Homo sapiens: one gene and its partner. The protein of the gene in region 1 purifies or fractionates together with the protein of each later gene. This does not show direct contact. Each region holds a gene or a part of one and is shown on either strand. Other genes may lie near its edges.

Region 1 (4,012 bases):
GATATGTTCAGATACACCAATACTTACCATTGTGTTACAACTGCCTACAGTATTCAGTACAGTAACATGCTGTCCATGTTTGTAGTCTAGGGGCAATAGGCTACACTGTATAGCCTACACATATAGTAGGCTGTAACATCTAGGTCTGTGTAAGTACTATGACATTCACACAACAACAACATTGCCTAAAGATGCATTTCTCAGAACTCATCCCCGTCATTAAGCAACATATGACTGTATATGTATTCTTCATACCTTTTCTGGAATGTCACTGAGACAGAATCTACATCCAGTTATGTCACCTTTAACATGCTGAATAAATTTTTATTTATTTATTTATTTTTGAGACAGGGTCTCACTCTGTCACCCAGGCTGCAGTAGAGTGGCGTGACTTCAGCTCACGGCAACCTCCGCCTCTTGGGCTCAAGCAATCCTCCCACCTCAGCCTCCTAAGTAGCTGGGACTACAGGTGCGTGCCACCATGCTTGGCTAGTTTTTTAGTTTTTTTGTAGAGGTGAGGTCTCACTATATTGTCCAGGCTGGTCTCGAACTCCTGGGCTCAAGCGATCCTCCCGCCTCAGCTTCCCAAAGTACTGAAATTACAGGCATGAGCCACCATACCAGCCTGAATAAAATTAATGTAGGAGTTCTACATTATGAGCCAATTGAATATAGATAGTCATCTCGTCAACATCAACACATTGATCATCTTCTTCCTTCCTTGTACTAAATTTGCTGCCATAAATCTTCCCAGAATCTGGGCTATGTTGCCCTGGACTGGCTTACTCCAAGGCCTTCAATGACACTTGATGCTTTTACAGGCAGACTGCCAGGCAACACACAAAATGGTTCTCAAACCAACATGTCTGACCACAGCCATTCCTTTGAGTTTCAGACCTACTATTTGCTAACCACCTGACCAACTCTGAAAAAGACCTAGTTTGCTGAACTTTGTTCGCTCCAGCTAGCCTACCAATATCAAGTCTCATTATGTTATTACAAAATCACATAAGCTCAGCACATAGCCACATTTGCTCCTAAAATTCATTTTGCCTTTACACTTAACAATGGGTCAGTTTTAAGGGCACTATCTGACCTTTTCCCAAAGGAAGTTTGGCATCCTTAATTTAGAATAGCTTTAACATTTCTGCTAACTCTGCTATTTACATACCCTAAGAGCCTTAACTCTCTACTGCCATTAAAGTTCAGTTTCCTCATCAAAAATATTCCATAAAGAATTCTGTCTGGCAAAGCTGTGGTGAAGATTAGAAGTGCTGCGCAGCACAGTATCTGGCATACAGTACCTCCATAAACATTGGCCATCGTTAATTGTCACTTCAAGCCCAGACACATGTATGCTCCTCTGGCATGTGGCTTCTGAATGAGCTAAGGACACTTAGAACCCTACTATTCCCCCCACAAACTACAAGGCCACACTGCAGATGAAGGGCCCATGTGACACACAGTAAAGCCTGCCTAGGGTGGAGGCCAACACTAGCATCTAGCTACAATCTACTGTTGCTAAGCGTTTTATGAAAGTCATTTCATTTAATCTTCACAATTCTGTGAATTCAATGTTAGTTATTTCCACTTTATAGATGAGGAAAATGGAGGTTTAGAAAAATTGAAAAACTTGCCCTAACTGGAGAGCCAGAAAGTAGCAGAACTAGAGTAGCTACAAGCCTGCAATCTTTTAAGGTTGACTACCTTCTATTTATTTTTTAACTGACAGATAAAATTGTATGTATTTATCAATGTATAACATGTTTTGAAGTATATATACATTGTGGAAGGGCTAAGTCTAATTCACATATGCATTATCTCACAGTTACCATTTTTGTAGTAAGAACACTTAACAGTCACTCTCTTAGCATTCTTCAAGAATATAGTATATGGGCCAGGCACGATGGCTCACACCTGTAATCCCAGCACTTTGGGAGGCCGAGGCAGGTGGATCACTTGAGGCCAGGAGTTTGAGACCACCCTGGCTAACATGGTAAAACCCTATCTCTAATAAAAAGACAAAAAAAATTAGCCAGGCATGGTGGTGCATACAGCATGTAGTCCCAGCTACTCGGGAGTCTGAGGCATGACAATCACTTGAACCCTTGAACCCAGGAAGTAGAAGTAGCAGTGAGCTGAGATCATGCCACCGCACTCCAGCCTGGGCAACAAAGTGAGACTCTGTCTCCAAAACAAACAAAAAAAAGAATATATGGTCACTGACTATAGTCTCCATGTTGTACAACAGACCTCAAGAACTTATTCCTCCAAAACGAATTTTGTATCTTTTGACCATCATCTCCCCAAAGCCCCTCCCAACCACCCCAGATCCTGGTGCCTGCCATTCAACTCTATATTTCTATGAGAGCAACATTTTTAGATTCCACACATGAGTGAGATCATGCACTATTTGTCTTTCTGGGCCTGGCTTATTTCACTTAACATCCTCCAGGTTCATCCATGCTGGTGCAAATGACAGGATGTCCTTTATGGCTGAAGAGTATTTCATTATGTATGTATACCACATTTTCTTTATCCACCATCAGCTAATGGACACTTAGGTTAATTCCATATCCTAGCTATTGTGAACAGTGCTGCAATAAACATGGGAGTGCAGATATCTCTTCAACATACTGATTTCATTTCTAAGTCAGCATTCTTAATAGCTACACTACCCTGTGTCACACCAGAGCTGGCTGTTGAGACTTTCCACCATCTACTTTGACCTGACCACCCTCTTCCACATTATTAAGAGGTTCCCGGCTGAGTCTTTGCTGCTAATGCCTCTTGTTCTGTGCTTCCCCTCCCATCCACCAATGACTTGCAAGTTTTTTTTTTTTTTCCACATTGTCAGGGATAGTTGTAAAAACTAGTCTCAATGTGTATACCCCCTTTTTTTCCTCATCAGTAAAACAAATTTTACCTTTGCTGCTACACAATTTTTTACTCCAGCTGGTTTAAGTCCCATTTCAAATAACAGAGGTTTATCTCTATAGGCTGGCTGATCTATGCAAAAATGAGGTGTTACCACTGAATAGTTTTTATGCCAACAGTGATTTTTAATGAATGAAGTGAATTCAATCAGTCCATCTGCAGATGTAGATAAAAGGCTAAACGCTGCTTTCCTTGAGTAATTCGTTTGTTGTTTACTATATTAAGTTAAGCTTTCCCATCCAAGCTTAGACATTAAGCCAACCCTTTACCTCTTCAAATTCACTTCAGGGCTCCATCCACACTACCTGCAGGATGTTTCCCAGCACACCCCTTGCTTGATAGACTTGCCTTAACTCATATATTTCCTAAGACTCATCAGGGTCACTTTACTTGTTCCCATCTTTCTAATTAGTTCACAAAGAACTAACCCGCGTATTCTAAAAACTTCTAAAATGCTTGTTACTAGAATAAAAAAGGTTAACAAAACAAAAATAGAGCAAAATGAAATAAACTATTAGAGCAAGAATTCCTTAAAATTCAGAACTAAATACAAACAAGTTTATCATCAACAGAGTATTTATGAAAAATTTTTCATCTCTGGTTCTCTTGGGCTTTAATGCAAGTAAAATAATTTAAAAAGTAAATCAATTCTACCAAACATGTATCACACTGGCCTCTGTGAATCACCTGTTTGAATTAGCCACATCTCCAGTGACAGGTGTACTTAATTCAGATTCTCCCAAAGGAACCTAATATCCACCAACTAGCCAGAATTAAAAAGAAAACAAAATTAATCAATAAAATGAGCAGTTAATGATAAATAAAAGTAACTTACCTACTTCAGTGAGTTGATGTCTTTCTAATGTTAAATTCTTTGGATCCTTAATAAAATGAAAGGGTTGTATTTTTATTCCTTCAATTTGAGGGAATAATAAAGCAAAACCAGATTCTCCAATTTCTATTTCCTGAGGTCGATTGCTACCTGATCCCATTGGAGTCACTAGAGAAAAAGTTAAACAGTTTCACCAATAGAGTCAGTAAAAACTAGATAACTACAGTTTAGGTCACTAAGATA
Region 2 (3,273 bases), on another chromosome or scaffold:
ATCCAATCCACAGACTTTGAAATACTAGATATGATGCAATCAATAATCTCTCCCTTTGAATGAATCTTACCAAAGAGCCGAGAATGACTTGAAATCACTTTACCTCTGTTCTATAACCTAATGCAACTTGTTTTAAGTGGTTTTTCAAAGTCATATGGTATAAAAGTAATATCAAATATCCTCTAAAACCATAGTTCTTAGATTTTTACAGGATCACGGGCCCCTCTAAGAATATGATAAAACAAAGTATAAACCCCAGTATCCCCTCCCCCCAAATAAATCCACACAAAAAAGTTCATAAAAAATTTCAAAAATTTTACAGATTACAAGAAGTCCATCCATATATGCTTTATCTATCTGTGGGGACTCCAGGTTTAGAAAACTTTACTTTGATAAAAACTCTGGTACTGTTTCCTTATGTCTACAATGAAGAGGTAGAATAAATGATCTATAGGTTCCTCCAGGCTGGGAGTGAGGGGCAATGAAAAACAAAGTCTATAATAAACCAACCAATTTAGAGAGTTTGTATAGGGATTGGGATAGGTAGGTTACCAGAAATGTGAGAAAGAACTTCTGTGGTTATTACAGTAAAAGGAATATTAGAACTGGAAAGTTAAGAGGACATAGCCTCTGCTATCCTTTAAGAATTTAAATCCAGATCCAGAAAACTTGTGTATATTTTCATAGCAAAATACTGAGTCAACAAGAGAGACTACCTCACCAAGAAACCATTAACATTATATAGAAGAGCGGTGATTCAGAACTACTAAACATTTATTGAATGTGTAAGGTATTAAAAACATTTACAATTTTGTTAATAAAATGATGTTTTATATTAATGTATGTATTATGCTTTGGAATATGCTAAGTCATGTAGATAACTTTACATTTCTTTCAATAACTTTATTCTTTACAAAATATACAAATAAATAAAACAATTCAACTTTTAAAAGTATTACCATATGCAAGAAGAAGGTATTGCTATCACCATTCTAAATTACCACAATGCATTCATTTCCTGTTCCCTTATCTTTCAACTCTAGTGGCAAAGTAAAGACTGAATTGAAATTAAGCTGCACTACAACATCATTACCAGGGATAGACACATAAACAAAGTCATTTCCAAATAAGGAATGCTGGATCTCCAGAGAAGTGACAAAGAGGAGTCTACTGAGTTTTGCACTCAGGCACATCCTTGCCTGAGGAGGCGTGCCAAGGACCTGGCTGAGAATCCACACTCTCTGCTCCTGCATTTTGCACCTCTGAGAAAGAAAATGAAAACAACATTCATCCTATTACAAAAATACACAAAAACCAAGCACAGCTGGAAGTGGAAAGGAGGTTAAGACAGGAGAGATGTGAAGAATGAAAAATGGCAACGTGATTCACCGTGTTTGGTCATGAAGATGGTGTATTTCACCTCAGAGTTGGAGAAGTTTACTCCCCATTTTGTCCTAAAATGAACTATTAGACAAACCATAGTTAAACTGAGAGGTAATAAAGTTTTATTTGGAATTCTTCAATTTGAAATTCAAAGTGAATCAAACACGGGCTGATTGAGTTTTCTTTTGTCCTGTTTTTCAAAATAAATGGTGTGCTAAACAAATAGTATTTTAGAGAATATTTAATCATCTTTGGAAAGCTTTCTGTGAGCCTTTAAAAAGGACTTTAGCTGCATCTATTTGCTTATAAACAATATTTATTTTACAATTATTATATTTATAAAAGTAAATCTACCATAACTGGTCTTGGCAATTACCTTAGTTTAAGGTAATTTAGATTACCTTTTATAATTAAAAGTAAAAACTCACATTTATTTTTTTAAAGACTGGTATTAATTCAAGCTGGGACTATCTCATTTAATTCTGAATTGGTCAGTTTTTGATTTATGTATTCTTCTAGGCTACTCTTTTATTTATCTAAAAACAGTACCAGAGAGATCCACATATTAAAAAAGGACTCAAACATTTTTATTTGCAGTTTGATGAATTCACATTATGCATATGCCTCTGGCACTAGCAGACAAAATCAAAAGGTGATTACAGCTGGGTGTGGTAGCTAGCATGCACCTGTAGTCCTTGATGCTTAGGAGGATTGCTTGAGCCTAGGAGTTCAAGGCCAGTTTGGGCAACATAGTGAGAGAGTTCCATGCAAGTGTTAGCTAGCCAATAGAAGGTCCTTAAATGTTTGTTAAATACTATTTAATGAAGAGAATATTTCAAACATGTTTTTATTCCAAATGTTTCTGTGCCTACCTATCTCCCTAAGAACACTTTTAGACTGTCAACTTGATCTAATTTTGATGTAGTTGATGAGAATGGATAGATTTTTTCTTAATCACAAAGTAGAGGTTTATAAACTCTGGCAAATAGTGCTCAAGGTTTTAAATGATTTGGCAACTGCCTTTCTTACTGTACAATTTTGTTGCTTTAGATTTCTACAGTTGCATAACAGGGTACCTCTGGTAGGGTAGGCAGACACACTGTCACAAAGGGCTGTGCACAGTAGATGCTATGTGGTGAGAAAGACTACAAGAAATGCCGTGTTACCGTTTCTCCTGCAAGTCCCCCCACTTCTGTGGACAACCTCCATGCAGAGCTGGGGGTGATCCTTGATACCTCCCCACTCCTTTGTTCAATCAGGTGCCTGGTGTTGCTGATTTTACTCCAAAATCTCTCCCGTCGGTCTACTTCTCTCCTTCTCTACTCCAAGTCCACACTACCATCATGTCTTGTTTAGACAACAGTCTAACTCCTGCTCCTATTATTTGCTGGTCACCTTAGAGACGAGGTGATGTTTTCAAAATGTATAACTCATGTTCTCCTGCCATTGCTTAAGATCTTTCAAAGGCTTCCTCTACACAATAAATGAAACAATTCCTTTATATAATTTATAAAAGTCCAGCATTTCTGGCTCTTATTTCTCTCTTTGGCCTCACTGACTTCACCCACACAAGCTTGTACTCACTGTGCTCTGACCACACCATATTTCTTTCAACTCTTCCCCTGGTCATGTTCCCACCTACCCTAACGCTGTTGCTGTTCCATCTGCCTGAGATGTTTTTCCCTCTGCTCTTTATTAAGATAACTCATGTTAACCTTTTAGATCTGATCTGTTTCCTTCCTCAATACTCCTCAAATACTTATTATATTTCTCATAGTCTTTTGTACTTGCACTGCTATAATTTCACTTTTTTTTTTTTTTAATCACTTGATTACTGTCTGTATCTTCCATGAGAATTAAGCTCTATGAAGGCAGGGATCATGTCTGGTT

What was found. Proteins that work in one complex are often made in the same cells at the same time.
Region 2: the proteins of FBXO22 (region 1) and CENPE purify together in Homo sapiens (affinity purification with mass spectrometry, with the first as the bait; one study listed by BioGRID). This does not show direct contact.

The regions. Positions count from the first base shown.
Region 1 is NC_000015.10:75,917,155-75,921,166, reverse strand, and holds part of FBXO22 (F-box only protein 22), read right to left. Parts: intron 3,938-4,012; coding exon 3,773-3,937; intron 1-3,772. UniProt on the Homo sapiens protein: Substrate-recognition component of the SCF (SKP1-CUL1-F-box protein)-type E3 ubiquitin ligase complex that is implicated in the control of various cellular processes such as cell cycle control, transcriptional regulation, DNA damage repair, and apoptosis.
Region 2 is NC_000004.12:103,105,055-103,108,327, forward strand, and holds the end of CENPE (centromere-associated protein E isoform 1 precursor), read right to left. Parts: intron 1,263-3,273; coding exon 1,168-1,262; 3' UTR 757-1,167; downstream 1-756. UniProt on the Homo sapiens protein: Microtubule plus-end-directed kinetochore motor which plays an important role in chromosome congression, microtubule-kinetochore conjugation and spindle assembly checkpoint activation.